5 linked regions of the Homo sapiens genome follow. The protein of the gene in region 1 interacts with the protein of each later gene in a pairwise test. Each region holds a gene or a part of one and is shown in the gene's direction. Other genes may lie near its edges.

Region 1 (5,784 bases):
GGAGTGCAGTAGCGCGACCATGGCTCACTGTAGCCTCAACCTCCTGGGCTCAAATGATCCTCCCGCCTCAGCCTCCTGAGTAGCTGAAATGACAAGTGCGCTCTGCCACACCCGGCTAATTTTTATTTAAACTTTTTTTTTTTTTTTGAGTCTCACTCTGTCGCCCAGGCTGGAGTGCAGTGGTGCCATCTTGGCTCACTGCAACCTCTGCCTTCTGGGTTTAAGCAATTCTCCAGCTTCAGCCTCCTGAGTAGCTGGGATTACAGGCACCTGCCACCATGCCTGGCTAATTTTTGTATTTTTAGTAGAGATGGGGTTTCACCATGTTGGCCAGGCTGGTCTTGAACTCCTGACCTCAGGTGATCCACCCACCTCGGCCTCCCAAAGTGCTGGAATTACAGGCGTGAGCCACCGCACCTGGCCTGTTTTAACTTTTCGTAGGGACCGGGTCTCGCTGTGTTGCCCAGCCTGTGGACTTGTGTTTCTTTTGCAGAAAACATACCGTTTCATTTACTGCTCCGACACCGGCTGGGCCGTGGGCACAGAGGAGTCTGACTTTGAGGGCTGGGCCTTCCCCTTCCCAGGAGTGATGCTGATCGAGGACTTTGTGACCCGGGAGGAAGAAGCCGAGTTGGTGCGGCTCATGGACCGTGACCCCTGGAAGCTCTCCCAGTCTGGACGGAGGAAGCAGGTAGACCGGCCCTGAGCTCATGGGGGTTGCTGGGCTGCGCTGAGGAGACAGCCCTACTGCTGGGGGCCATCCCCCTCCTTGCAGCCACACCCCTCAAACCTCCAGGGTTGGTAGTGGGCGAGTTCCCCAGACCTTGGGGCTGTGGGCAGCCAGACTCGCTGCAGGACGTGTGTCCGATGGGCAGAGGTGCACCTGGGCACCCCATCTCCCTGTGATATGCGCTCCTGGGCTCTCTGCCCCTCTGTAGCTGGCTTGGTGGTGGTGAAGGCACCCCATTCTCCCAAGCTGCAGGCGCCCCCACCTCCCATTGTCACCATCCGTGTCCTGTCTCCTCACACGCATTCCCACCTTCCCCCTCCCCGGGCCCGCCGCTCCCTCCAACTCCTTCCCCACCTGTGTCCAAACATCCCCGGGTGCCCCCTCTCCCTTCATTGTAGGTTTTTTTTTTTTTTTTTTTTGAGACAGAGTCTCGCTCTGCCACCCAGGCTGGAGTACAGTGGCATGACCTGAACTCACTGCAACCTCTGCTTCCCGGGTTCAAGCCATTCTTCTGGCTCAGCCTCCCAAGTAGCTGGGACTACAGGTGCCCACCACCATGCCCAGCTAATTCTTGTACTGTTAGTGGAGACGGGGTTTCACCATGTTGACCAGGCTGGTCTCGAACTCCTGACAAGTGATCCGCCCGCCTCAGCCTCCCAAAGTGCTGGGATTACAGGCGTGAGCCACCGCGCCCAGCCCCATTCTTTTGTGACATCCTGTTGGATGTTGGTACATTTCATTTCCTCATTCATCTGTCGATGGACATTGGCGTTGTTGTCACTTTTTGGCTGTTGTGAACATTTGTGTACAGGTTTTTTTTTTTTTTTTGAGACAGGGTCTCGCTCTGTCGCCCAGACTGGAGTGCAATATGTGATATTGGCTCACCGCAGCCTTGACCCCCCAGGCTCTAGCGATCCTCCTACCTCAGCCTCCTGAGTAGCTGAAACTAAGGCATGTGCCACCAAGCCCAGATAATTATTATTATTATTATTTTGAGACAGGGTGTCTCATTCTGTCTCCCAAGCTGGAGTACGGTGGCTCAGTCTCCACTCACCGCAGCCTCAACCTCCTGAGCTCCAACAGTCCTCTCACCTCAGCCTCCTAAGTAGCTGGAACTAAGGCCTGTGCCACCACATCTGTCTAATTTTTGTTTTGTTACTAGAGACAGAGTTTTGCTGTGTTGCCCAGGCTGGTCTGGAACTCCTGGGCTCAAACGATCCACCTGCCTGGGCCTCCCAAAGTGTTAGGATGATAGGCGTGAGCCACCATGCCCAGCCTAATTTTTAAATTTCTTGTAGAGAGGAGGTCTCACTTTGTTGCCCAGACTGGTCTCAAACTCCTGGCCTCAAGAGCTCCCTCCGCCTCAGCCTTCCAAAGCGCTGGGATTACAGGCATGCACCACCATGCCCGGCCATTTGCTGTCACTTCTGTCTCCTTGAGTCTGCCTCCTCCTGCTTCACCTCCATGAAGCCAGGGGGCTTTTGCTTGCCTGGGTCACTATGACTGAATTCTTCCCACCTAGTCTGTGGTAGACATCTTCGTAAACTCAGACACCTCATGTCCTCTTTGTCTTCATCCTTCAGGACTATGGCCCCAAAGTCAACTTTCGGAAACAGAAGCTAAAGACCGAGGGCTTCTGCGGCCTCCCCAGCTTCAGCCGGGAGGTGGTGCGGAGGATGGGCCTCTACCCGGGGCTGGAGGGCTTCCGGCCCGTCGAGCAGTGCAACCTGGACTACTGCCCCGAGCGGGGCTCTGCCATTGACCCCCACCTGGACGACGCCTGGCTGTGGGGGGAGCGGCTGGTCAGCCTCAACCTCCTGTCCCCCACCGTGCTGTCCATGTGTCGGGAGGCGCCCGGGAGCCTGCTCCTCTGCTCGGCCCCGTCGGCTGCCCCGGAGGCCTTGGTGGACAGCGTGATAGCACCCAGCCGGTCGGTGCTATGCCAGGAGGTGGAGGTGGCCATCCCCTTACCCGCCCGCTCCCTGCTGGTCCTCACCGGGGCGGCACGGCACCAGTGGAAGCATGCCATCCACCGCAGACACATCGAGGCCCGCCGCGTCTGCGTCACTTTCCGGGAGCTGTCGGCTGAGTTTGGCCCTGGAGGGAGGCAGCAAGAGCTGGGCCAGGAACTGCTGCGGATCGCCCTCTCCTTCCAGGGAAGACCCGTGTGAACCGCCTCCTTGGCTCCAGACTTGACTGATCCCGGGATTGAAATGAGGAGCACAGAACAGGGCCTCCTGCAACTCACGGGGTTTCAAGAGAAGATGGCTGACCCCTGATGCTGTGAGCAGTGTGAGCCCTGCCCAGGAGCAGGTTTTGATGGGAACGTACCTCCAGGCAGCCCCCTTCCACCTGGACCGTGGCCACACTTTTTTGGTTATTTAGTTTGTCACAGTCTTGGGGACATGGGATCATTTGAGCTTAAAAAATACTGGGGGCCGGGCACAGTGGCTCACACCTGTAATCCTAACACTTTGGGAGGCTGAGGTGGGCGGATCACTTGATGCCAGGAGTTCGAGACCAGCCTGGCCAACACGGTGAAAACCCGTCTCTACAAAAACTACAAAAATTAGCCGGGTGTGGTGACTCACAGCCGTAATCCCAGCTACTCGGGAGGCTAAGGTGGGAGAATTGCTTGAACCTGGGAGGCGGAGGTTGCAGTGAGCCAAGATCACGCCACTGCACTCCAGCCTCGGTGACAGAGCAAGACTGTTTTGAAAAAAAAAAAAAATGGGAACATTTTAAATGATTTTCACCTTTATTATGCATCTATTTTCATGGGGTTTCCCGATATCTCACTGTCCAGTCCCTTCATTTGGGGAATGTGTTGGATTAGGGAACAGGGTTGAAGATTTGAAGTTTAGACTAAAGAGCTGGGAACAGCTTCAGAGTCAGGCTCAGCCTGACTCATGCTTGACACCCCCACGCCCAGGGAGGGTTGGGGGATGTGAGGAGGGCAGGGAAATCTGAGAGCCTCCTTCCAGCCCCATAACGCTGTTAACAAGTAGGAAAAATTAAAGCTCCCGGCCAGGCGCGGTGACTCACACCTGTAATCCGAGTACTTTGCGGGGCTCAGGTGGGAGGATTGCTTGAGGCCAGCCTGGGCAACATAGTGAGACCCCCATCTCTACAAAAAATACAAACATTAGCTGGGCGTCTGGGCATGGTGGCACACACCTGTAGTCCCAGCTACTCGAAAGGCTGAGGCGGGAGGATGGCTTTACCACCATGTCAAGGCTGCAGTGAGCTCATGATCATACCACTGCACTTAACTTGGCAACAGAGCAAGACCCTGTCCCTAAAATAAATAAAAGGAAAACAAAAAAAGCTCCTCACCTCCCACTACACCAGGAGGCTATTCCTTTGTGATGGGGCTGTGGTGGGGGCGCTTACCTGGATGGGGGAGCTGCTCTGCTGTTCCTGTGGCTGGGTGCGGGGCAGGCTGTGGAGGCTGAGGGGGTGGCCTGGACCCATGTGGCCAGCCCTCTCTCCCACCACTATGGGACAAAATGTTCAGTTCCTCACCACCTGCTGGGAACTAAATCCAGGGGAACAGGAAAGGTTCGGGGCCAGCACCACTCTTTACAGTCACCCCCAGAACCCTCTGGGAGCTGTCAGATGGCAGAGCCGTGCACTGTCTGTAAAGCAGCATCCCAGCCACTGAGCTCCCAGGAGGGCTGAAGAGCCCCGCATAGACCCAGGGGAAAGGCTGATGGGTTTCTAGTGGCTGTGAGAGCCCAGCCGCTAGGTGGGAGGACGTGGCTCCCAGGCCACCTTAACTTCGGCTCCCTGGTCAACTCACTTGGAGCAAGAGCACAGAGCCCGGCTTCCTCCCAGTATCACGGCCCCAACGGGCCCCTCACTGCGCATCCAGATGTGAGTCAGGTCGGAGCTCCAGCTGATCCTCACTGCACTGGAGCAGATAAGCCAGCCCAGGGGTCCACTCTCGAGGGGGCCAGTGCAGGGTCTCTGCCCCTGACAGGCTGGGCTGGCCCCTGCAGGATGCTCCAACATCTGGAGAACGATGCACATAGAGACTTGGAGGGGAGAGGCCTCGTGAGGCTTGGGGATGCTGTGGAGCAAAGAAATCTCCCTCCCTGGGGTCCTTCCATGCTGGCCCTTCCAGCACTCCTGCAGAGCACACTTTAGGAAACTCCATTACCTGTTAAGTTTGTGATACCAGAGTTGGGTCTGTCCTTGAAGCTGTGACACGAAGACCCACGGCGACACCTTACCCAACCAGGATGGGGCTGGAGAAGGCCACGCCAGGATGCTTCTGCCACAGCCTGGCCCCCGTACACGGCCCCATAGCCTCGTATGTTTCCTTTTTCTTTTCCTTTCTTTCTCTTCCTTTCTCTTTCTTTTTTCTTTCTTTCAGGCGGCGGGGCAGGGTCTTGCTCTGTTGCCCAGGCTGGAGTGCAGTGGCGCAATCATGGCTCACTGCAGCCTTGAACTCCTGGGCTCAAGTGATCCTCCCCCTCAGCCTCCCCAGTAGCTGGAACTACAGGCGTGTGCCACCATACCCAGCTAATTGTTTTGTTTTGATTTTTAGTGGAGATAGAGTCTTGCTATGTTGCCCAGGCTGGTCTCAAACTCCTGGGCTCAAGCGATCCTCCCGCCTCAGCCTCCCAAAGCGCTGGGAATAACGGGTGTGAGCCCCTCTGCCCAGCCTGCCCCATGTGTTTCTGCAGGGCTGGGCCCCAGGAGCCACCGCCTGCAGGGTAACATCTGCTTACCGGTGTTTGGGGTGGCCATTTCCGCATCCATCAGACACTTTCCTCAGCAGACCAGGCTGCCCACTCTCATGCTCTTGGAGCTTCAAGCAAGGGGATGGTGAGGCATGGGACTGGGACACGCCCAAATAGGGAAGTGCCCGCTCCAAGGGCGGCTTCTGGAGACATCCCGCTCCAGAGCAGGCCCAGCGGGGGCTCAGCTGACATCCCTCAGCCGCTTCAGAAAGATGTTCAGGAAACACCGTTGCCTGTTTGCTCAGAGTGGCAGGTGGTGAGGCCGAGTCTGGTCCTCCCTCACAGGCAGGGACAGGAGCCAAGCTC
Region 2 (6,221 bases), on another chromosome or scaffold:
GCTCCCCCTCAGCTGAGGACTACAAATTAATCGGTGACCTTTCACTTCTCGGATTCCCGCTGGACTCCCCAACCACACTAGTCAGAAATGCCTTCTATTAAAAAGAAAATAGATGGAATGAGTTTGGCAATCTCCACTCCATTCTTAACGATTCATCAACAGCTAGCCTTAACCAGCTGCCGATGAGCTTTGTGTGAGGTGCAGATGTCTGTGGGGGCAAGAATGCTATGTCACACACATTCACCTGCCACACACCTGCTCTTCGTAAACACAGCATTTCTCAGAATGCTTCTCCATGGTACCTGTTGCTTACTTTTTGCACCCGCTGGCATCTGGGTTGCTGAAATTATTCTAATACCCCTAAGTGTGATGAGGAGTTATCCTATGTTGATGGGGGTGGCTGTCTGGGTTTCCTCTAGTTGTCAAGCTTATTGCTGATGATTCTAGTGGACATCTCAGTAGCTATTTTGAGCAAGGCTGGGATCGTCACACCATTAAAAATTAATAGTAATGTATTTAAAATATTATTTAATTTTGAACAGAAATCTACGTATTCCAATCTTTGCAACAGACAGTGAAGATGTCTGTGCAGTACGGTTGTGTTTGATGGAAAAATAATGTCTCCAAGTGGGGCTGGGTGCCACGTAGAAAGGTTAGTGGTGACTGTAGTTTCTGGTCCTGTAACTTCTAGGTCAGTCCATTTCTCCAGCTATCATCAAATGGGAGGTGGTTTCTAATTCATTTGAAATATCATCGCCACCTACCCTTCCCACCCCATATCAGGCAAAAGGATATTGCTTCTTTTTGAATGAAGAACCTTTGATCTTTCCATTGGATATCGAGGGCTGCTTATCACATTAACATAAGGCAAATGATAACTTGTTTGGACAGGCTTCTGGCCGTACGGCAGGGAGGCCTAGAGAAATATCTGAGGCTCTGCCCAAAAGTTGCAGCTGTTTGGATCCAGGCGATTTCCAGAACTGCTGTATTGAGAAAAAATGGCCATGGTCAAGGTGGGGCTGCCCTGTTGTAGAATGCTGTGCAGGCCACCCTCTATCGCTGGGACGTTGGTCAGAAGTTCCCTCTGATGTTGTATACCTTGGGCAGAGACTCCAGAAGAAATCGTGGCTTAAGTGAGTCACAAAAAAAGGCTTGTTTGTGCTTGATGTCAGCTTGTAAAGGGTTACAAATGTTGTTTTCCTGGAAAATCTGCCAGCATGTCTGCGTGTCCCTAGCCTTCCCTTTGTTCTCTTCTTTTCTTCTTACCCTTTCCTTCACTCTTACTCCCCTCCTCCTCTTGCCTGAATACGTTCTGAAAACAGTACTACAATGCTCCCTGCTTCAAGATTACAGTGTACTTTACTAGGTATGATTTAATTAGGGCCCTTATTATGTTTTCAGCAGCTTAAGGTGGGCCTTTCAACTTATCTACCTAATTGGTTGCACAAGAAGTTTCACAGCCCATGACAAAACATTGTCAGTGATCAAAGTCAAAATTCTGCATAAAGGAAAAATATTAATAAGAAGATTATTCTTCAAGTGTGCACTGCTAATTATGTCCAGAATGTAACCGTAGAAACACTTTTGACTGATGTGAGCTTTGTCTAATAAACATGAATCTTCAGTGAGCTATGAAAAGTGAGACACCTCTAGCTTTACACTGGTGAAGGCTAATTTTGCTTATTAAATAATTTTTAAACATTTCCTATTTTGTGTCGCTTTCCTCTCCATTTGACTCTCCTTGCTCTTGCTCCTCAGGTGACCACCCCTGAGATGGTGATGCCAAGCAGCATGTTCCTCCCAGCAGCTGTTCCAGATCGAGATGGGAATTCCAATTTGGAAGAGGCAGGAAAGCAGCCTGGTCAGTATCATTATTCTTGACCCCAAGAAATTGAAACAAGATGGAATGCCAAAATGTTCATGGAGAAAGGTTTTCAGGAATTCTTTACAATACTCTTAAGGTGAATGTAACTGATCAGGAGATGAGGGGCACTGTCATCAGCTACTTTATACTCTGCTTCTTGGCATGTATTTGTATATTACTCACATGGTTTAAAGTGAGAGAAAATTAGTATGAGAACCAGTGGAATTCTGGCACAGACACACACATCTTCTTAAACTATACAATTAGGGAGTGAATAACCAGAGACTCAGTCAGTAGGCCCTACCATTCTAAGCCATTAAACACTGTATTTCTGAGGACTTAATTAGTAGGGACTTGTGGGTTGATTTTTAGGTACACTGGATTAGTTGTCTTTCGTTCTGAGTTTTTTGGGATTGGCTTAGGATGAAGCACAGAGATGCTGATGGAAAGAACATTGTTGTAGACAGTAGTTGGTGCCACATAGTGTTTCCTGGCTAGATGAATGGTTAGACCTCTGTGAGGCTGTCCTACATCGTTCACCTCTAAGGTGGGAAGAGTTCTAAGTTGGGAAGAGTTTGGCCACACTACTGTCCTGCCTTCTCTCTTTCTTGTGAGTTTTCCATATTAGACAATGGACAAATGACCTGTTAAAGGGTCTCGGTATTTATGAGTGTGATGATCTCATTGTAGGGAAAAAAATGTATTTTAAATAATTGAACACTTGAATGTTAATTGCTTATTGAATAGAGATGGCAATCAGAAGTCACATTATAACAAGAAATTAAATGCCTAAAAATATGTATCCCCAAATTTCTTATATTACGATGTTCAGCAGTTCTTGTAAATTCCTCACAACTTAGGACAGCATTAATTCACATATTCTACACTTCAGATCTACTGTGCTAAATGCTTATTACATAAAAGATGAACATAAAAGGGAAATCCAGTCTAAGATCAGTAACCTTCAAACCAGCTCTTGAGAAATTGAGGATTCTGAGTCAAGCAATTAAATGCTATTTAAAAGACTGTTAGATCTGTGATATGACATGGGTCTATTATGCATTGAAACTTTTTGTATTTCCTTTTATCCATCTCTGTTCATGTGCACCCTGTTTATAATATGTGCTCTATTGGAGGAACAAAAGAAAGCAGGAGGCGCTCCGCAGAGATTCTGTCATTCAGGTTGGGCACTTCCCTCATCATCAGATTCTGTGTTCATGAGGCCTGACTAGGTAGACCGCTCTGGGTGCCATCCTTGAAACAAAGCCTTCTTTATCTTTGGGTTTGATTTTTTTTTTTTTTTTAACAGAAACCTCAGAGGATCTGGGAAAGAACATCTTGCCATCCGCAAGCACAGAGCAAAGCGGAGATTTGAAACCATCCCCTGCTGACCCAGGCTCTGTGAGAGAAGACTCAGGCTTCATCTGCTGGAAGAAGGGGTGCAACCAGGTTTTCAAAACTTCTGCTGCCCTTCAGACGCATTTTAATGAAGTGCATGCCAAGAGGCCTCAGCTGCCGGTGTCAGATCGCCATGTGTACAAGTACCGCTGTAATCAGTGTAGCCTGGCCTTCAAGACCATTGAAAAGTTGCAGCTCCATTCTCAGTACCATGTGATCAGAGCTGCCACCATGTGCTGTCTTTGTCAGCGCAGTTTCCGAACTTTCCAGGCTCTGAAGAAGCACCTTGAGACAAGCCACCTGGAGCTGAGTGAGGCTGACATCCAACAGCTTTATGGTGGCCTGCTGGCCAATGGGGACCTCCTGGCAATGGGAGACCCCACTCTGGCAGAGGACCATACCATAATTGTTGAGGAAGACAAGGAGGAAGAGAGTGACTTGGAAGATAAACAGAGCCCAACGGGCAGTGACTCTGGGTCAGTACAAGAAGACTCGGGCTCAGAGCCAAAGAGAGCTCTGCCTTTCAGAAAAGGTCCCAATTTTACTATGGAAAAGTTCCTAGACCCTTCTCGCCCTTACAAGTGTACCGTCTGCAAGGAATCTTTCACTCAAAAGAATATCCTGCTAGTACACTACAATTCTGTCTCCCACCTGCATAAGTTAAAGAGAGCCCTTCAAGAATCAGCAACCGGTCAGCCAGAACCCACCAGCAGCCCAGACAACAAACCTTTTAAGTGTAACACTTGTAATGTGGCCTACAGCCAGAGTTCCACTCTGGAGATCCATATGAGGTCTGTGTTACATCAAACCAAGGCCCGGGCAGCCAAGCTGGAGGCTGCAAGTGGCAGCAGCAATGGGACTGGGAACAGCAGCAGTATTTCCTTGAGCTCCTCCACGCCAAGTCCTGTGAGCACCAGTGGCAGTAACACCTTTACCACCTCCAATCCAAGCAGTGCTGGCATTGCTCCAAGCTCTAACTTACTAAGCCAAGTGCCCACTGAGAGTGTAGGGATGCCACCCCTGGGGAATCCTATTGGTGCCAACATTGCTTCCCCTTCAGAGCCCAAAGAGGCCAATCGGAAGAAACTGGCAGATATGATTGCATCCAGGCAGCAGCAACAACAGCAGCAGCAACAGCAACAACAACAACAACAACAACAACAACAAGCACAAACGCTGGCCCAGGCCCAGGCTCAAGTTCAAGCTCACCTGCAGCAGGAGCTGCAGCAACAGGCTGCCCTGATCCAGTCTCAGCTGTTTAACCCCACCCTCCTTCCTCACTTCCCCATGACAACTGAGACCCTGCTGCAACTACAGCAGCAGCAGCACCTCCTCTTCCCTTTCTACATCCCCAGTGCTGAGTTCCAGCTTAACCCCGAGGTGAGCTTGCCAGTGACCAGTGGGGCACTGACACTGACTGGGACAGGCCCAGGCCTGCTGGAAGATCTGAAGGCTCAGGTTCAGGTCCCACAGCAGAGCCATCAGCAGATCTTGCCGCAGCAGCAGCAGAACCAACTCTCTATAGCCCAGAGTCACTCTGCCCTCCTTCAGCCAAGCCAGCACCCCGAAAAGAAGAACAAATTGGTCATCAAAGAAAAGGAAAAAGAAAGCCAGAGAGAGAGGGACAGCGCCGAGGGGGGAGAGGGCAACACCGGTCCGAAGGAAACACTGCCAGATGCCTTGAAGGCCAAAGAGAAGAAAGAGTTGGCACCAGGGGGTGGTTCTGAGCCTTCCATGCTCCCTCCACGCATTGCTTCAGATGCCAGAGGGAACGCCACCAAGGCCCTGCTGGAGAACTTTGGCTTTGAGTTGGTCATCCAGTATAATGAGAACAAGCAGAAGGTGCAGAAAAAGAATGGGAAGACTGACCAGGGAGAGAACCTGGAAAAGCTCGAGTGTGACTCCTGCGGCAAGTTGTTTTCCAACATCTTGATTTTAAAGAGTCATCAAGAGCACGTTCATCAGAATTACTTTCCTTTCAAACAGCTCGAGAGGTTTGCCAAACAGTACAGAGACCACTACGATAAACTGTACCCACTGAGGCCCCAGACCCCAGAGCCACCACCACCTCCCCCTCCACCCCCTCCACCCCCACTTCCGGCAGCGCCGCCTCAGCCGGCGTCCACACCAGCCATCCCCGCATCAGCCCCACCCATCACCTCACCTACAATTGCACCGGCCCAGCCATCAGTGCCGCTCACCCAGCTCTCCATGCCGATGGAGCTGCCCATCTTCTCGCCGCTGATGATGCAGACGATGCCGCTGCAGACCTTGCCGGCTCAGCTACCCCCGCAGCTGGGACCTGTGGAGCCTCTGCCTGCGGACCTGGCCCAACTCTACCAGCATCAGCTCAATCCAACCCTGCTCCAGCAGCAGAACAAGAGGCCTCGCACCAGGATCACAGATGATCAGCTCCGAGTCTTGCGGCAATATTTTGACATTAACAACTCCCCCAGTGAAGAGCAAATAAAAGAGATGGCAGACAAGTCCGGGTTGCCCCAGAAAGTGATCAAGCACTGGTTCAGGAACACTCTCTTCAAAGAGAGGCAGCGTAACAAGGACTCCCCTTACAACTTCAGTAATCCTCCTATCACCAGCCTGGAGGAGCTCAAGATTGACTCCCGGCCCCCTTCGCCGGAACCTCCAAAGCAGGAGTACTGGGGAAGCAAGAGGTCTTCAAGAACAAGGTTTACGGACTACCAGCTGAGGGTCTTACAGGACTTCTTCGATGCCAATGCTTACCCAAAGGATGATGAATTTGAGCAACTCTCTAATTTACTGAACCTTCCAACCCGAGTGATAGTGGTGTGGTTTCAGAATGCCCGACAGAAGGCCAGGAAGAATTATGAGAATCAGGGAGAGGGCAAAGATGGAGAGCGGCGTGAGCTTACAAATGATAGATACATTCGAACAAGCAACTTGAACTACCAGTGCAAAAAATGTAGCCTGGTGTTTCAGC
Region 3 (5,853 bases), on another chromosome or scaffold:
ATGTAGTTTTTCTTAAGCTTTTGGACTGGTAAGTGGCATTTATGAAAGAAACATTCCTTCTAGCAAACTAAGATGTGCTTCTCTCTTGCAAAGTTTCCTGCTTTTCGCCATTGAATTTTAAATCATTCTTCAACAAAGCCTGTCAAGAATAAGTAACATGATGTCCTCTTTAGTGCCTTCCACTCCATCCAATTACCATCTCAATACTTAATATTGATGATTGGGTGCATCCATGATTCTGATCATTTCTTACTGTGGTTGATGTGTCCACTTATCTAGATCTGTGTACCCTTTTTGTCTTTATTTGAAAGTATGTGAAATATTATCTGTTTTAAAGTGTTTTAGGCTGGGCATAGTGGCTCACGCCTGTAATCCCAGCACTTTGGGAGGCCAAGGCAGGCGGATCATTTGAGGTCAGGAGTTCAAAACCAGCATGGCCAACATAGTGAAACCCCATCTCTACTAAAAATACAAAAATTAGCCAGGCATGGCCAGGCGCAGTGGCTCACGCGTGTAATCCCAGCACTTTGGGAAGCCGAGGCAGGCAGATTATGAGGTCAGCAGATCGAGACCATCCTGGCTAACACAGTGAAACCCTGTCTCTACTAAAAATACAAAAAATTAGCTGGGCGTGGTGGCGGGCGCATGTAGTCCCGGCTACTCTGGAGGCTGAGGCAGAAAAATGGCATGAACCCAGGAGGCGGAGCTTGCAGTGAGCCGAGAGCGCGCCACTGCACTCCATCCTGGGCAACAGAGCTGCCGTCTCAAAAAAAAGATTAGCCAGGCATGATGGTGGGTGCCTGTAATCCCAACTACTCAGGAGGCTGAGGCAGGAGATTCGCTTGAGCCCAGGAGGTGGAGGTTGCAGTGAGCAGAGAACGCACCACTACACTCCAGTCTGGTGACAGAGCAAGGCTCCATCGCAAAACAACAACAACAACAACAAAAAAAAAACACAAAAGTATTTTAAAGCTGTTTATTCTACTGGAACACATTTGATGTAAGTATTAATTTGGTACAACCTTTTATGGGGGCCAGTTCAACATTATGTATCAAATAGTTTAAAGTTTTTAAACTTTTTAACCCAGTAATTACACTTCCAGGACTTTAATATGATGTTGCAGATGCACATTTAACAAATGAAAGAAATATATGTCAGCTAGAAAAAAGCATATTACTGAATAATTTGTATGACATAATTCCCAATGTTGGGAAAAAAGAAGTTTGTATCTGCACATACACACACACACACACACACACACACACACACACACACACACAAGATTGGAAGGATAGACACTGAAAAGTGACCTCTGGCCTCATCCGTGATTTTATTTATTTCTTTAAAATTTTTACAGTAACATACCTGGTGTTTGAGATACTTTTCTAAAAAATCAATTTTTTAATACCTACCACTCAAAAGGCCATGAATATTGAATGGGCTTTGCACAATGCCCAGGCAAAAGCAACAACAGCAAACGAAGAAACAATGTGCACTCCAACACTTGGTGAAATCTGCTTGATGATTTGAGAAGTGATAAAAATAGATTTTGTGATTACAATAGCTTTTGAAGCTAAAGCTTTGCACATGACAGAGCTTTCATGCTAGTGGCCCACAGCACTGGGTTGAGTCATTTACTAAATGGAAAAAAATGATTGAAAAATTAATGTTGGGCTTTATTTCTGAAGTCTCATTGACAAGAAGAAAATAACAAAGCTGTTTTTCATTTTGTTTATCCTGAAAGTCTTCAACAAGTGATTACTCAAAGTTCTTAGAGCAGTTGTTTCTCTTCTATGCTGTCTAGATCTCCAGATCACACTAAGTTTGTGGGAAGCTTCAAAACCAAACAAGACTTCATAGATTTGATTGAAGTAATCTATCGAGGAGCAATGAGGGGGAAGCTTATTGTCCAAAGTCCTATTGATCCCAAGAATATTCCCAAATATGACCTTCTCTATCAAGACATTTAGTACATTAATTGCTGTCAAAGATGAAGAAGAAGGCACATCTTGACACAGTACCTGAATCCAGCTGTGCTGTGTTTCTGGAGTCCTTTGGAAACATGTGTCCCAGAGGAGAAGAGGTTTGACTTGCGTGTAGAAAACCCGGCCCCTGAGGAAAAGACCCCACTGGTTCTCTGATGACCTGGGATGCCTAACTGTCTACTCCCTGCAAGCCTCAGAGCAGCCAAGTCATTGGTGTTCATTTTCCCCACAGTGATTTTTGTAACTTCTCTTTCTAATGTTTTTCTTTATCCCTTTAATACAGAACCCTCCCAAACATTGGCTAGTACAACTTGATTTCATCATGTTCATTTGATACACAAGTGAACTGGAAAGTCACTTCCCATAGAAGCAAAAGTACTTATTTTCTACCCTAGCTGGGTGCATGTGTGTGCACACACACACACACACACACCCCCACACCCCTTTGCCGGTTCCTCGACTCATACATCCCTCGTGCTTTCCCATCTCCAGTCTGTATTACTGTAGGTTCTCTTCAAATAATTAATTGAGCAGACAAGTTTGTTTTATTTTGGAGCCTTTTTGGCTCTGGCTTTTAAACATTGTCCTGGTTGGCTCATTTAATTTTTTTTTTTTTTTTTGAGACCGAGTCACTCTTGTCACCCAGGCTGGAGTGCAGTGGCGCGATCTCGGCTCACTGCAAGCTCCACCTCCTGGGTTCATGCCATTTTCCTGCTTCAGCCTCCTGAGTAGCTGGGACTACAGGCGCCCGCCACCATGCCCAGCTAATTTTTTGTATTTTTATAGAGGCGCAGTTTCACCGTGTTAGCCAAGATGGTCTCGATCTCCTGACCTCGTGATCTGCCCTCCTCAGCCTCCCAGGTGCTGGGATTATAGGCGTGAGCCACCGCGCGCACCCCATTTAATTATTTTTTATGTTATAAAATTTAATATGGAAAGTGAGAATTTGAACCTTCACCATCCACCACTCTATTCAGGTAAAACAATGAATGAGCCACCTTAGCAGGAGCAGATTTTTCCCAGAAGCTGCTGCCTCTTCCTGAGGCAGAAAATTGGATTACTAAGGCTCAAAACTAAAAGAGATGTCAGCATTGTTGGATAGAAATGTCACCTATATGGGATTTGCCTGTTTTAATAACTTTGTAAGGAATTCTTGCTCTTCTAGGGGTGCCTGGCGCAACCGTGGGCAAGTTACTGCTCCTCTTTAAACCTCGTGGTGGTTATTGAAACAGATTTATTAGAAGGAGAGGGTAGGTGCAGAGCTGGAGAGCCATGGGTGAGGCAGCTTGTGACCTGCCTAGCAGCCGCTGACCACCTCTCCAACAGAAGCCTAGTCCTGTTCAGAGCAGCACTGTCACTGCAAGTCCAGCCCCCTTTGCCAGGGGCTCCATTCCACCCCTTTCCTGCAGGGAGGGGTGCCATGAGTCTTGCTTTTGGCTCATACAGGAGAGAGGGAAGGCTGCCAGGCACTGCTTGTATCCCTGCTGATAAGAGGAGGGAGTCACTCCAGGAATAAGACAAAAGGAGAGGAGGAGGCCATCACCTCTGGCCTCTTCCATCGTACACTTCCTGTCTCTGGTTTAATCATGATGCATGGAGCTACAACAGCCATCTTAGGTCCCCGAGGTGCCCAGCATCACGTAAAACATCGATATGCTAAGAAGAACAAAAAGAGCCCAATCTCTGATGTTATTGAGCTCCTGCATGAACTCTGGACCTGCCTGCCTCAGACTTCTGTGAAAGAATAAAATTTCTTTTTGCCTAAGTCACTGTTAGTTGGGTTTTCTGTTCTTCAGCCCAGATCACACAGTATTTGCGGTATGGTAAGCACTCAGCGCACCAGCCAAAACTCAGAACCTGCGTGTGCAAAATTATCATGTCTTCTTCCTCCTGTTAGAAATAAGTTCTCTTATTTCTGAGTGCCGCAGAGGAAGAGGAGCACTCAGAAGAAAAGTTTCTCAGCAAGGCAAAGTTTACTTCTGCAGAAGGGTGCTGCCCGCGCCTATAGCAGTCGCAAAAGCACACCTAACAAAGGAGAACAGGTTTCTAACCCTAACGCAGTTCCTGCTTCTTTGTCTTTCCCCCATTGGCTGGGGTTGGACCGCACAGTCTAGGCTGACTCCAATTGGCTATGCGCTTGAATCTTTCTCAAATAAGGCAGAGGGTAAAGGTTACAGGTTAAGGTTTGGAGCAAGGCGGTTTACAGCCTATGACAAGAAAGTTGGATCTTTGAAGAGGAACCTTTCTTTTATTCTGACAATTTCCCCCTTTTTGTTGTTATAATTCTTCCTCTTCAAATTATTTTAGTAAGATTTGGCTTTGTTGCTCTTCTTGATTGTCTAGGAGTAAAAGTTGGTCTGAATATGGAGGGGGAGAGACAGAGAAGGTTTTAGTGCAAGCCATTTCTATGAGTCTTTGAACTAACCCACAAACACAAGGTGTGATGCAACAGCCTACAAGGATGAGTGCACTTGTAACAATGGCAAGGGAAGTGAGGATAGAGGCCATAAGTCCTTTCCATTTACCAAACCATCTTTTGGTTAAACCTGTGAAGGGGTCATCTATTCCAGAATTTTCAGCCAGCTCATTTGCTAGGGTGGTGAGGCCTTGTAGAGCCTTGGTAGTGGTTCCATCGGGAGCTGTGTTATTTGGGATCAAAGTACAACATTGGGCTCTGATGATTACACAAACTCTGCCGTTTTCTGCTAATGTCATGTCAAGAGCTATCCTGTTTTCCCAGGCCATTTGGCTGGTGGGACCAAATTGCTCGGCTATCCCCAAATGGTATCTCTGGTATAATTAACAAATCCTTGTTGATTGTAATATATATAGTTTATCCAGTCTACGTTTTTGTTTATAGTAGACCACCAAAATAAGACTGACTCAAACCTGGCAGCTATTTGATTTCGAGCTTTAAATTCATTGGCGGCTACTCGTGGTACTCCAATTGCCTCTATATAGACATGGGGGTCAAAAGACCCTTGAGGAGCTTCTCTTTCTTCCCAAGAGGGTGACTTTTTGTCGGACTGATGAAATGCCAGGGTGAAAGAGATGGCCAGTTGGATTAGAGTGCAAGTGCTGCTCCAATTATTTGGCAGCATACCCAGTAGAGGTCCTCCACAATACCACCAAACATCTGCTTGTGGATAGACAAGGGCAGTCTGATTGGTGAGCTCTCGAAAAGGCTCGGATTCACTGCATCCCGTTAGATTCCTGAAAGATGTAAGTTTTCCCCGTCATGAGAGACAAGAGGTAAAATTGGCATCAGAGGCCAGGAGCCAGATGGCCCTTGGGGGCTGACCCACAGGGAAGTCTTTGACTTTTGGGAAAAGCAGTGAGAGACTGGTGCATGACTTATTACCCCAGGCTGTGGGGTGCTGGAAGAGAGCTACTGTACAGTCCATGCCCGGTTGGTTAGACCATCCAAGCAGGAAGGGAACTATTTGGATTTCTGGCCTGCCCATTGCACAGGCATAACAGTCGCTTTTATTTAAAGTGCAAACTGAATATTTGATCCATTTCAGCCAGGCATTCATTTCTTGGTGTCCGGTCTCGATGGCCAGGGTTTGTTTTAGGTCTTTGACTTCCACTATGTGCACTTTAGTTTTGTCATTAGGTAGTGGCAAGATAGTTGTTTCATTTGGAGGAGATCTTCGGGAAGGAAGGGGTGCTGGAGGGGCGACAAAACGAATCTCAAAGGACCCTATGGGGTCTTTCCCGCTAACATCTGCCCCATACCATAAAAGCGACTTAGGGTGGGAATATGGTTAGTGGAGGTTGAAGTAGTAATAGAAATATGCACCAGGTTACATCGGAGGTGTTGGCAGTTAGAGGAGTTATTTTGTTTAGTAAAATGGATATAAGGTT
Region 4 (6,221 bases), on another chromosome or scaffold:
ACTTATCTAGTTGGAGAAGAGGTAACAATAAACAAAATTAAGTTCAATGTATTGTATGTTAGATGGTGGTAAATGCTGTGGATAAAAATAAAGCAAGCCAGGGCTCTGAAGAGTATGAGGGTTGAGGAGGGGGTTTAAGGGAGGACTGCTATAAATTGAGTGGTTAGGGAAGCTCTTACAGAGAAGGTGACTCTTGAGTATAAACCTGAAACTGGTGAGGGAGTAAGCCATCCCCACATGGGGGATGGCGGGGAGAGTCCCAACAAAGGGAACAACAGGGGCAAAAACCCTTTGAGGGCATGCCTGGTTGCTAAGAACAAGCAAGACAGCTAGAGCAGGGTGAGTGAAGAAGAGCACAGTAGAAGATTAAAGTTGGGGGACAGGGGCAAGTTACTGTAGTCTTGAAGGCCACTGTAAAATCTTTGCTTTTTTTGAGTGAGATAGGAAGCCATTGATGGAATAAGCAAAGTAAGAAAAAACTGAAAAGTGCCCACTGGATTTACGATCTGAGGTTACTCTCTCCCCTCTTGAGGTCCATGACTGTTTCATTTGATAATTTATGCAGCCAGACACTGTTCTAGAAATTGGGATACATGAACAGAAACCATAATCTCTGCCCTCCACTTCCTGCACACAACTTGATGTGCTTTCTTTTTGAAAGCTAATTCTTGGCAGGATGTCAGTGTGAAATGATTCTGAGAGTCCTAGATGAGTGCCTGGCTATAGGGAAGGAGTGCGACAAGCCAGAGGAACAGTGATGGTGCACTTTCTGCTTCAGTAGCCACAGCGTCTATTGTTATGTAGTTGTAGAATAAGTACAACTGTTGGTCACAGAAGTCTGAAGAAGGCCATTGGTCCCTTCCTGTCCCAGAGGCCACTTTTTCCTCAGGGATAAAGAGGTGTCTGAATTTTCTGAATGTGATTCTGTTTGTGTGACTCCCTGTGTTTTTCATTTGGAATCTTTTCTTCTTTTTTTTCTTTTCTCTTCCTTTCCTTCCTTTTCCTTTCCTCTTTTCTCTTTCCCCTTTCCTTTCTCCTTTCTTCTTTGTCCTTTCTCCTGTCTTTCTCCTTTCCTTTCCAACAAGATCTTGCTCTGTCACCTAGGCTGGAGTGCAGTGGTATGATCATAACTCATTGCAGCCTCTACCTCCTGGGCTCAAACGATCCTCCTGCCTTTACCTCCCAAGTAGCTGGGTCTGCAGGAGCATGCCACCATGCCTGGCTAATTAGAAAATAATTTTCTTTTTCTGTAGAGATGAGGGTGTCACTATGTTGCTCAGACTGGTTCTCAGACTCCTGGTCTCAAGCAATCCTCCTGCCTTGGCCTCCCAAAGTGTTGGGATTACAAGCGTAAGCTACTACACCTGTAGTGGCCCCAACATTTTCTGAGTGTGATTCTGTATGTGTGGGGTTCTCTGTGTTTTCCAGTTCTAATTTTATAATTGGCTGAAATTTGAACTTTCTGCCTGGACCATTAGGGTACCTTTTAGTGCAGGCCCATAGTTGGCAACAATTCAACTAAATAGTCCTTAAAGTAATGTGTGTTGGCATTTACCATTCCTCACCAAAGCGACATCTTCCAATTCCTTTCTCCTTGCCACATTTTCGTTTTTCGTTTGTTCTTTCTTTTCCCAAAGTCTTTTTTTCTTTTTTTTCATTTACTTTTTGGCTGTGATGATACCTATAATTTAAGGATCCTAATAGTTTCTTAGTACTTCAGTGTTAGTGACCAGAAAGAATTGTAGTTGCTTCCTAAACATCTGACTTAATACATTTCCAAGAACAGACTGGGGAAAATCTGTAGCAACATCTGTAAAATACTTTTAGTTCCTTGCTGAAAGGGGGAAATATAAAGAAGCAGTTGGTTTTTAGAAGTTGACTAAGTCTGTGGTTTGAAATTTGTATGCCAATGATTTTAGCAAAGAAAAACATTTGATTTCCCCTCCTTAGGGGTGAGGGGTGGGATTTGCCACAAAGAGCAAAATAATCAGTGTATTTTCTCAGAAATTCTCTTATTTTCTTGAGAACTTTAGTGTAAATACTAAATAAATGTTGTGGAATGATTTCAGATTAATTTCACTATCTGTCACATTCATATGGAGATTACCCATTGAAGCAGTTGTATGTAATGATTTTCTGTTATATAGATTTGAATATAAGTTGGTTTATGCTAAGATAGTCCTCAGTTTGTTATATTAAAGACATTCCTTTCAGACATTTTCTTCTCTGTACTACTTTATCTTAGTGAATGGCAACCAGTGTGACAAGCTTAAAACCCTTAAGGAATCTCTGTTTTTCCTCCTTTCTTCCTTCCGTTATCAGTTTTGTTATTATCTCAAGATGGACTTCCTCTCTGTCACAGCTTACTCCAGGCCCTAATTATATCAGCCAGTCACTTAGATGGCTTCATTAGCTTCTTACCTGGTTGCCCTTAATCAACTCAGCATTTTCTCCACATTCACACTGGAATGATCTTACAAGCCATATTTCCTAATGGACTACTGTGCTTAAAAACCTCTGTATCTTTTTTAATCTACAGCACAGATTTTGTACCTTAACATATGGTTTTTTTTTCATCAGATAAACCTCTGCTATTGAGACATAAATGTTATATTTCCTCTGTTGAGAATTTTGTATTTTCCCTATTCCCATTAGTGAAGAACATTTTGCTGATCTGTGCTTTCATCATTTACAGTAGTTTCTTCCAACTATGGAGCACCTTAAAATATGGAATTTGCCTTTTAAACTCCATACGCATCCTTCTTCCTTTCTCCATTTGAACTTATCTGGATAGTAGCTTGACATAGAGGACTGTCAGGGCTCTACCTACTTGACTAGATTACTAACTACAGTAGTTTTGCAAATATTTACTTGAGCACAAATATTATTGCTTATATTTATTAGGCAAATAAAGTACCTGTATTAGTCCATTTTCACACTGCTATAAAGAACAACTCAAGACTGGGTAATTTATAGAGGAAAGAGGTTTAATTGACTCAAGTTCCACATGGCTGGAGAGGCCTCAGGAAACTTACAATCTTGGTGGAAGGTGAAGGGAAGCAAGACACGTCTTCTCATGGTGGCAGGAGAGAGAGAGAGCAAAGGGGGAAAGTGTCCCACTTTAAAACCATTAGAACTCATGAGGACTCACTGTGAAGAGAGAACAGCATGGGGGAAACCACCCCCATGATCCAATCACCTCCCACCAGGTCACTTCCTGCACACATGGGGATTACAATCCAAGATGAAATTTGGACGGGGACACAGAGCCAAACCATATCAGTACCTGACATTTATTATCCAACCTTTCAGTAGCTTTCTGAAAAGAGATTATTGTCCTTATTTTAGAGATAAAGAAATGAGATACAGATAGATTGGCCCTTAGTTGATAGCCAGTACATTTTTGTTGAGTGAATTAGTAAACTCTTTCCTGATAGTATATATTTATCTACATGTTCTTCAAAGATGTATGTGTGTTTGAGTGTGTGCGTGCATGTAATGGAGTTGTGCATCTGTTTTATTTTATTTTATGACAGAGTCTCGCTCTGTCACTCAAGCTGGAGTGCAATGACTCAGCCTCTGCTCTGTGCAACCTCTGCCTCCAGGGTTCAAGTGATTCTCATGCCTCAGCCTCCTAAGTAGCTGGGATTACAGGTGTGCACCACGATGCCCAGCTGATTTTTTTTTTTTTTTTTTTTTTTTTTGCAGAGTCTTGCTCTTGTGCCCAGGCTGGAGTGCAGTGATGCAATTTCGGCTCACTGCAACCTCCACCTCCTGGGTTCAAGCGATTCTCCTGCCTCAGCCTCCCGAGTAGCTGGGATTACAGGTGCCTGCCCAGCTAATTTTTGTATTTTTAGTAGAGACAGGGTTTCACCATGTTGGCCAGGCTGGTTTCGAACTCCTGACCTGAGGTGATCCACCCTCCTTGGCCTCCCAAAGTGCTGGGATTGCAAGCTGCGCCCGGCTGCTAATTTTTATATGTTTAGTAAAGCAGGGTTTCGCCATGTTGGCCAGGCTGGTCTCAAACTCTTGGGCTCAAGTGATTGCCTTACCTCTGCCTCCCAAAGTGCTGAGATTACAGGCGTGAGCCACCACACCCGGTAGCAGTTGTGCATTTTAAAGGATCAAAGTTGTAATAAGCTCCTTTAAAATGTGGGAGAAATAGATAAGCTGAGGCTGTTAATATTTGGGAAAAGAGCCTAAAGGTAGAGAAGGAAGCTAGCCTCATGTGTGTTAAGAGTCAGAGGAATTAATTTGGAGTTAAAGTTAGAAGAAATGTCAGTTGCATAAGATGAGCAGGTGAACTTATGAAAAATACGGATTCTTAGTCTCCATCTCCTCAGATAACTGAGTGAAGTTGGGGTGAGGCTTTGGATTTGTACTTTTGCAAAGTTTTAGAGGTGATTCATATGAACAGCTAGGATTTGAATCCTGTATAGCTGACCAAAATTAAAGATCTAACAAAGAGAATTTCAGATTATTTTGCATATAAAACTAAGGGGAGTCAGGAAATAGGCTTAGAGTGTTGGAAAGAGCATTTTCACCACAAATTTCCCACCTTGATAAGAGACCCAGCCAGAAAGAACTATACAGTTCTAGAGGAGTGATTTTATTCTAATCGAATGATGGAGTGGGGATAGAGGATTGAAAGTCCAGACATGTACTACACACAGAAAAAAAACCCAAAACCAAAAACTGAACTATACCTATGTGTTCTACTAGTAGTTTTCTATTTGCTTTTAGTTTGTTGCTGGTTTATTCAAGAATTACTGAATGAATACCTACTGTTCACCCACTGTGTAGGGAAAAGATAGCAGAGAGATGAGGAAAAGTATAATGGGATAAAGAAGAATCTTATTTAATAAATCAAATGATTTCAACAAAAGGGATCACTGGTAAATTGGGCACACCTTCTGGTTTTCACCTGGGGGAATAATTTTTCTGTGGCCGTTCATCTTAGTTCAACAAACATTTATTGTGTCAGACACTCTACTAACCGTTAGGAGATATTCATGCATAAATGAAAGACAGTCTTTGCCCTGGGCTATGTTAGTCTTTAGTGGAAAAGACAGATACATGAACAGAGGCTTTCATTATAATTTAGGAATTACTTTAATAGTGGTGAAAGGGGCAGATTTAAAAATATTTAGGTGATAAAAATGGTAGGAATTGGTGATTGATTGAATGTTGGGGGTTGAGAAGAAGTCATAGGATCATTCACGGATTTCCAGTGTGGGTGACTTGATAAGGATGGAGGAGTAACATTAACTCACATCCAAAATACAGAATTAGAAATGTATTTGTGAGGGGTGAGAGGGGAAATCAGTTTTGCGTTCAGTATGTATAACACGGCTCAAACACATCTAAGTGGAGGCAGTATAGCATAGTGGGAAGGTGTTTTGGCTTGGGAATCAGATCACATAGGTTTATGACTAAGCTATACCACTAGCTGCTTCTAGCTGTATGACTTTGAGATGACTAACCAACCTCACCAAGTCCCAGTTTCTGTGGGGACAGTACTAGTACATACTACACAGGAGTTGTGAAAATTAAAAGAAATAATGTATGGTAAGCACTTATCACAGCACTAGGCACATAGTGAGACCTCACTAGTATGTCAGGAAATATTATCTGTGTAGCAGACAGTGTGAACTCAGGAGACAGCAGAGCTGGACATACAGTTTTGGGAGTCATTAAAATATAGGCTAACATAATGACAGTAGGTAAGATTCCTATAGAGAATGGACCCCTGAGGAAGAGTAATAGTGAACAGGGGATGGACAGAAGAGGAATAAAATCCAAATGAAAAGCGGTGTGATTGTTTTGCATGTATAGAAGCTTTGTAGATACTTGTGCCTCATAGAGAAGTTACAACTTGAGGTTTATAATTGGAGCACAACCAGGAATATTTATGATCTTCAAAAAATCCACAAATTTAAAATTTCACATGGATTTCTTTTTAAAGCAAACTTCCTATTTAAATAGTAATAAAATCAGCCCCTCCCCACTTTTAAACTACTTGCCAGTAGACTTTTTAATTTTTTCTGAGAAGCTATTTGAAACTCTACTGAATGATGTGGACACAAATTATTTGCTTGAGTAGTGTTGATACTTTGTGGTAACCTTTATTTCCATATATATTCATCAACTGTCTTCTTGTTAGAGCCTTAAAAACTTTGTTTTAATAGCTTAGGAAATGATATGGTTTGGCTCTGTGGCTC
Region 5 (6,221 bases), about 14 Mb from region 1:
GAGATCAGGTGCCAACATGGTTGAGTTCTGGTGAGGTCTCTCTTCCTGGCTTACAGACGGCTGCCTTCTCACCACGTGCTCACATGGCCTTTCCTTGGTGTGTGTGGGTGTGTGTGTGTGTGTCTGGAGAGGAAGAGATCTCTCTCCCTTTTCTTATAAGGTCACCTATTCCAATGGATTGTGACGTTCACCTTGTGACATCTTTTAACTTTACTTCTTAAAAGCCCCTGCTCCAAATACAGTCACATTAGGAGTTTGAGCTTCAGCATATGACTTTGAGGAAACACAGTTCAGCCCACAGCACCCCCTTCCCCTGCTTCCACATACCCCCAAGTTGTTAGGAATCATTTTCCTTTTTATCACCTTGTATACTTACAGAAAGCCAGGAGATAAATACCCAGACCTCATTCTTCATCACTCTGATTTTCTGCTGGCACCTCCCATTGTCCCATTGCCAGTGACAAGGGATCCCACAGGTGTAGTCCTTAAGGATCAGCCTTCTGGGAAATAGCACAGAGTACTGAGGCATGGAGAATGAATCTGGAGAGGTGAATGGAAGATGCCGGATCAAGGTGTATCACCATAGTTGCAGGAGACTAAAAATTAATTATTAGGAATTTAGAGTGAACTTGTAACTTAACTAGTCTAACCTCATTTTACAGATCAAAGACCTAAACCAAAGGAAGTTAAAATGACTTGTTTGAGCCCATGAGTTATTAATAATATAATTTGTGAATGATTTCTATGTGTCACACACCAGTAAGCACTTGTAATAATTTTCTACTGCTGCATAACAAATTACTACAAACTTTGCAAGTTAAAGCAACAACTGTTAACTCAACATCCATCATTATTATTATTATTATTATTATTATTATTTTTGAGATGGGGTTTCACCCTTGTTGCCCAGGCTGGAGTGCAATGGTGCGATCTCGGCTCACTGCAACCTCTGCCTCCTAGGTTCAAGTGATTCTCCTGCCTGCCTCCCGAGTATCTGGGATTACAGGCGCCCGCCACCACGCCCAGCTAATTTTTTCTATTTTTAGTAGAGACGGGGTTTCACCATGTTGGCCAGGCTGGTCTCAAACCCCTGACCTCAGCAGATCCACCAGCCTCAGCCTCCCAAAGTGCTGGGATTACAGACATGAGCCACTGTGCCCAGCCAACATCCATTATTTTTCAGGTTAGAAGTCTGGGATAGGGGAGCTGGCTTAGCTGTCTATGCTTAGCACCTCAAAAAGCTGAAATGAAGGTGTTGGCCAGGCTAAAAGTACTCACCTTTAAGTGCGAGGGAAGAATCTGCTTTCAAGCTCATTCTTGTTGGTAGAATCTATTTTCTGTGGTTGGAGAACCAAGGTCCCTGTTTCCTTGTTGGCTGTCAGCTGGGGGCTGGCTACTCTCAGCTTCTAGAAACCAGTCACATTCATTGAGGTACAATGCCTTCCATCTTCAAAGCCAGCACCACTGCTTAGAATCCTTCCTGCACCTCACATGCCTCCAACTTCCTCTTCTGCTGCGAGCCAGAGAAAATTCATTGCTTTTTAAGGGCTCACATGATTAGAGTAGGCACGCCTGGAAAATCTCCCATTTGCCATATAAAAGTAACATAATCATGAAAGTAACACCAGGGGACAGAAGTCATAGGGGCCATGTTAACATTCTGCTTACCACAGCACTGTATGTACCTGATTGTACCTAATCCTCCTAATATTTATTTTATTATGTATGAGAAATCAAAGACGTAGGAAAGTTAAATAACTTACTAAAGTTATGGCTTATAGATGGCAGAGCTGAATTTGAACTCAGAGTTTTCCAAAACCTTTCTCCATGGCAGAGTAGATATTAGAATGCACATTTTTCACTCTCAGGGCCAGTGAACTTTGAACTGCACCAGGCTGTCGCCTCTGAAGTGTGATTGTTGTGACACAGACATCCTTGTGGACAAAGGTGTACTTTTACTGTGAGCTCTCTCCTTTTTCAGTGTGCCCATGATTACAACAGTAGAGGAAAATAAAAGGTTCAGGAAGCCTAATAATGACCCAATAAGAAACACTATCTGCTGGGAATGCTTTCAAGTAATATATAGAGATAAAGAGTGTTTATTGAAATGTATGACACAGACCCAAGGTTTCCAGGAGTTTATAGCCAGTTATTTCACATTGAAGGTATAATTAATATAATTGCAACCATGTCATTTATCATATTAAGTAACAGAATTATTGTTTTGCTTTACCTTTGTTAAAGTCTCCTAATAAAACAGTTGCATTTTATTAAAAATGCGTTACTTGATTATAACATACATCTGTTCAGAATTTCTGATTGATTTAGAGCTGGGTGAAAACTAAAAATTCCCTACCATAAATGGATTAATACTTGTGTTGAATTCTGTCACAGAGGCCCACACTTAAATCCATATATGTATATCCCTGTTACAAAAGGGCAGCTTCCAACCCTTTTAAATTATGGTTTGTAGCAATGCCATGGCCGTGCTTTTAAATCACTGTGAATGCTGGCAGCATGTCAAAGCACTCTAGTTTCTACTGCTTGCCTTGGAAAAATAGTAAGTTTTACAAATAGTGATACAAAAAAATTTCTTTTGGGAGAATAAAGGATAGTTTCTTGATTTTTTTCAGCTTGAAAATGTAAATATGTTTATTTGTCTGAGGCAATACTTTTGGTAGTTTTGTTCTTGCATTCGCTCTCCCAGGCTCGCTCTTTCTCTCTCTCTCACTCCTTCCCTCCCCCTCGCTCCTCCCTTTCCTCCATACATATTAATGTTTGCATATATATGTGTTAATGGTGCTAAATTCTTTTTGTACAAACAACTTTTTATACAAATAACCCTCCTCCATCCCCACACCTTAGAGCTTCCCAATCTGCCAATCCACCTTTGCACCTTTTTAAAAGAATCATGAAAAAGACTTTTAAACTAACTTAATTCTGAATCCCCTTCCCTTTTTTTCCCCATAGAACTTTTCTTAACATCCTATGGAGAATCTGGAGAGAGAACTGCTCAATAGGACAGTTTAGAAAATTTAGAGGTTTGAAAACTGTGTTAAATATGGGAACTGATTTATATACTCTCTTAAAACTATCAACTCAGTATAGCACAAATAAATAAACAAGCTGTTTAAATCTATATATATCATCAGAAGTTACTTATGGATCATCTGATGAAAGATAATCCACACACCGTGCAAACAGCCCCTTGCACATGGGTATTGTGCTCACCCATACTCTGTTTGTGTTTTTGTTTTAGGTTTGTATAAAACCACGTTTTTAAAGTTCTTCATTTTCTTAAGGGTAGAATCTGGGTTAGTTTAGGCTGAAATTGAATATGTGATAAACGTCCCACTTATTCTCAGGCCGCTCTTGGATAACAAGATCACAGTGGCATCCTTTTCTTCTCCAATTCCACAACAAGGTTTTTCTTTTAATAAATGTATTGGATTGCTTCCAAATGACTTTGAAAGTTTTTATAGGTATTTCTAAAAGTAAAATGTTTTAGTTTAAATGTGGGAGACTCAAATATAAAACACTGTAGATTAGAACTCTAAGAAAAATATTTTTAAAACCTAAAACTAGGTAAGTGGTAATAGCACAGATTTCCACAATAGATAGCTCCTGGCACCTGGTGCTGATTTTATAGTATGTTTTCTTGCAGAGTAGTTTGTAGCTGGCTCTTCTCCTTGTAGAAATGGAGCTCCAGTGTAAGGCTTCTGGAAGGGATGTGGTCATCCCAACTGTTTTAATGATGACAGCTCTAGTTGAAGAGCCATCCCACCCTTCTTGGGTCACATTCTTACCAAGGACTCTGTCACCACAATTCACCACATTGGAGGATGCAGATGAGGCTTTTAATATAGTCATGATTTTTAAAATTATAACAAATCAATCATAGGTTTTCTCTACTTAGGAAACTGAAAATTATATGGCATAGTATGACTTCTTAGGTATTTCTTTTTTCTTACCACTAGCGTTATTGGTATGTTGTTTTAACCTGATTTTACTCACTTATTAACAAAGGTATGTTGGGTGGTTAAAGGCATTGATAGAAAAGCAGAGGCTTCCTGAGATTGTGAATTCTTCTAATTGTCAAGACAAATAATAATTTAAAAAAATACAGAGCTGGTTCTTCTATAATTAGTAAATTTAACTCTTTATATTTAACACTTTCACAGTAAATATAACTTTTTTAACCAAGCCACAGCTCACCATAGTTTATTCATGCTTCAGAAATCATCAGGCTTTATTTCACTTGTATCTTTTATTATTTATCTTTCAGATTCTAAAATCTGACCCTTATTTTGTGGTATTCATGTTGTACTGGTGTAGAACATAGATTGTAAAAATTTCCAAAGTCCAGTGTTTATTATACGGCCTCGATCCTTTAAGATACCACTTTGCTAATTATTGGGATGCATGCTGTAGCTCACAGCCATATAAGGATCTATTTAGCTATATTAAGAACTAAATTCCCACTCCACCTTCTTCCCCCCTCAGGAAGGTATAATTTTAAACTTGAACCAAAAGCAGTGTGATAGTTTTATAAATAATTACATTGTTTTTGTTAACCAAAGAGTAAAAGTAAAGAACATGCTGTAGTAGGATAACTTGCTGCTTTCCACTAGATGGGAGTATGAGATAACCAGATGTTAGAAAGATTATTTTATAGCTGAACTAGCATATGCAAATTCTTCAACAAATTCTTACCAAATAAAGATTTCTGACTAGTGTGCACAAGGAAAGCAATTTGCCTCTTCACCACCTATCTCTCTCTCTCTCTCTCTCTCTCTCTCTCTGTCTCTGTCTCGGAATATACAAGTCAAATCTAATATTTTCAGTTTGCATACTGAAAAGTATTTTAAGAAAATTCAGAATACAACAAACTAAAATCTATAATTAATAATGTATTATTTGGCAATGAGATACATTTGGGTTTTTAGTTGTTTTTTCTGTTTCTGATGTAGATAAATTCCATGATTTATATTAATTTTAAATTTAGAAAACTTAGTAAATTCTTCTTAATGCTAATTAATACATTGCATTTCTCTGTGGTCATAGCATCTGTGAATAGCAACAGTTTAGTTTTTTTCTTTCTGATGAATTCTTGTAACTTTTCACACTGCTCTGATTAGTACCTTCAGAACCATATGATTAGAATTGGTGATAGCAAGGTTGCTTTCTTGCTTCACATCTTAAAACTAATGCAGTAAGTATGATCTATGCTGAGTGTCTGGGTTTGTTCCCCCCATGCCTCATCCTCTAGGAACTCTTTCTAGAATAGTTTCTATTTCCTTTTACTAGTTTCTGCTATTCTCTTTATTTTCCTTCCTTTTACTTCAGGCTTATTATGCCTTTTTCCTAACTTCCTGAGTTGAACACTTAGTACTTTATTTTTTCCTTTTTTCTAATTTGAGTGTTTTAAACTATAAATTATTTAGTTATCTAGTTACTTCAACATGCATTCTTAGCCTAATTGTATCTAATGTTAATCCATGTTTATATAGACTGAACAATGTAAGTATCTTTAGAATGTGTTTTACAACACTCAGATCGCCACTCTTATTGTTATGTTGTCGTTGCCATGTATATTGCTTCCAGCTTAAATTTTTAACACCACTCCCTACTCCTCTGTTTTTCTCTGTCACCTTTTCCAGCTTCTTTTCCTCTACTAGACTCTTTCTTGAGTCCTTACTTTTTCCCTCTACATTTTTGCCAACAGGCACAGATGATCTCTTTAACTCATATTCATTATATATTGTTCCCTGACCACCAAATTTATATTTCCTACCAGGCTACAGTTTTTAACATGAGAGTTATAGATCCTACACTCTGTGATATCTTTACCTTGTCTCACAGGCATATCAAATTTATCAGTGGTTTCATTTTGGAGACTTCCATCAACCTTCCCCACTCCATACTGCAAAACTGTTCATCTTTTGAATATACTATCTTAATAAATTATATTCATTCTACTAATTTACTCATCCCAGAAACTTGGTTTTATTTTTCAAGAGACTGAGTGTATTAGTCTGCTCTCAGTTAGTCAAGACATACCCAAGACTGGGTAATTTATAAAGGAAAGAGCTTTAATTGACTCACAGTTCAGCATGGCTGGGAAGTCCTCAGGAAACTTACAATTGTGGCAAAAGAGGAAGCAAACACATCCTTCTTCACATGGTGGCAGCAAGAAGTGCCTAGCAAAAGGGAGAAAAGCC

Evidence for each region.
Region 2: the proteins of ALKBH4 (region 1) and ZFHX3 interact in a two-hybrid assay, tested with the Homo sapiens proteins (one study listed by BioGRID and IntAct).
Region 3: the proteins of ALKBH4 (region 1) and TXNL4B interact in binary tests that used the Homo sapiens proteins (3 or more experiments, as listed by UniProt).
Region 4: the proteins of ALKBH4 (region 1) and MTMR6 interact in a two-hybrid assay, tested with the Homo sapiens proteins (one study listed by BioGRID and IntAct).
Region 5: the proteins of ALKBH4 (region 1) and TES interact in a two-hybrid assay, tested with the Homo sapiens proteins (one study listed by BioGRID and IntAct).

Annotation. Positions count from the first base shown.
Region 1 is NC_000007.14:102,454,511-102,460,294, reverse strand, and holds the end of ALKBH4 (alpha-ketoglutarate-dependent dioxygenase alkB homolog 4), read left to right. Parts: intron 1-493; coding exon 494-691; intron 692-2,313; coding exon 2,314-2,901; 3' UTR 2,902-4,057; downstream 4,058-5,784. UniProt on the Homo sapiens protein: Dioxygenase that mediates demethylation of actin monomethylated at 'Lys-84' (K84me1), thereby acting as a regulator of actomyosin-processes.
Region 2 is NC_000016.10:72,795,667-72,801,887, reverse strand, and holds part of ZFHX3 (zinc finger homeobox protein 3), read left to right. Parts: intron 1-1,758; coding exon 1,759-1,861; intron 1,862-3,173; coding exon 3,174-6,221.
Region 3 is NC_000016.10:72,082,755-72,088,607, reverse strand, and holds the end of TXNL4B (thioredoxin-like protein 4B), read left to right. Parts: intron 1-1,805; coding exon 1,806-1,971; 3' UTR 1,972-3,432; coding exon of another isoform or gene 3,433-3,502; 3' UTR 3,503-3,751; downstream 3,752-5,853. UniProt on the Homo sapiens protein: Essential role in pre-mRNA splicing. Required in cell cycle progression for S/G(2) transition.
Region 4 is NC_000013.11:25,276,193-25,282,413, reverse strand, and holds part of MTMR6 (phosphatidylinositol-3,5-bisphosphate 3-phosphatase MTMR6), read left to right. Parts: intron 1-6,221. UniProt on the Homo sapiens protein: Lipid phosphatase that specifically dephosphorylates the D-3 position of phosphatidylinositol 3-phosphate and phosphatidylinositol 3,5-bisphosphate, generating phosphatidylinositol and phosphatidylinositol 5-phosphate.
Region 5 is NC_000007.14:116,237,737-116,243,957, forward strand, and holds part of TES (testin), read left to right. Parts: exon of another isoform or gene 1-596; intron 597-1,278; exon of another isoform or gene 1,279-1,513; intron 1,514-6,105; exon of another isoform or gene 6,106-6,200; intron 6,201-6,221. UniProt on the Homo sapiens protein: Scaffold protein that may play a role in cell adhesion, cell spreading and in the reorganization of the actin cytoskeleton. Plays a role in the regulation of cell proliferation. May act as a tumor suppressor. Inhibits tumor cell growth.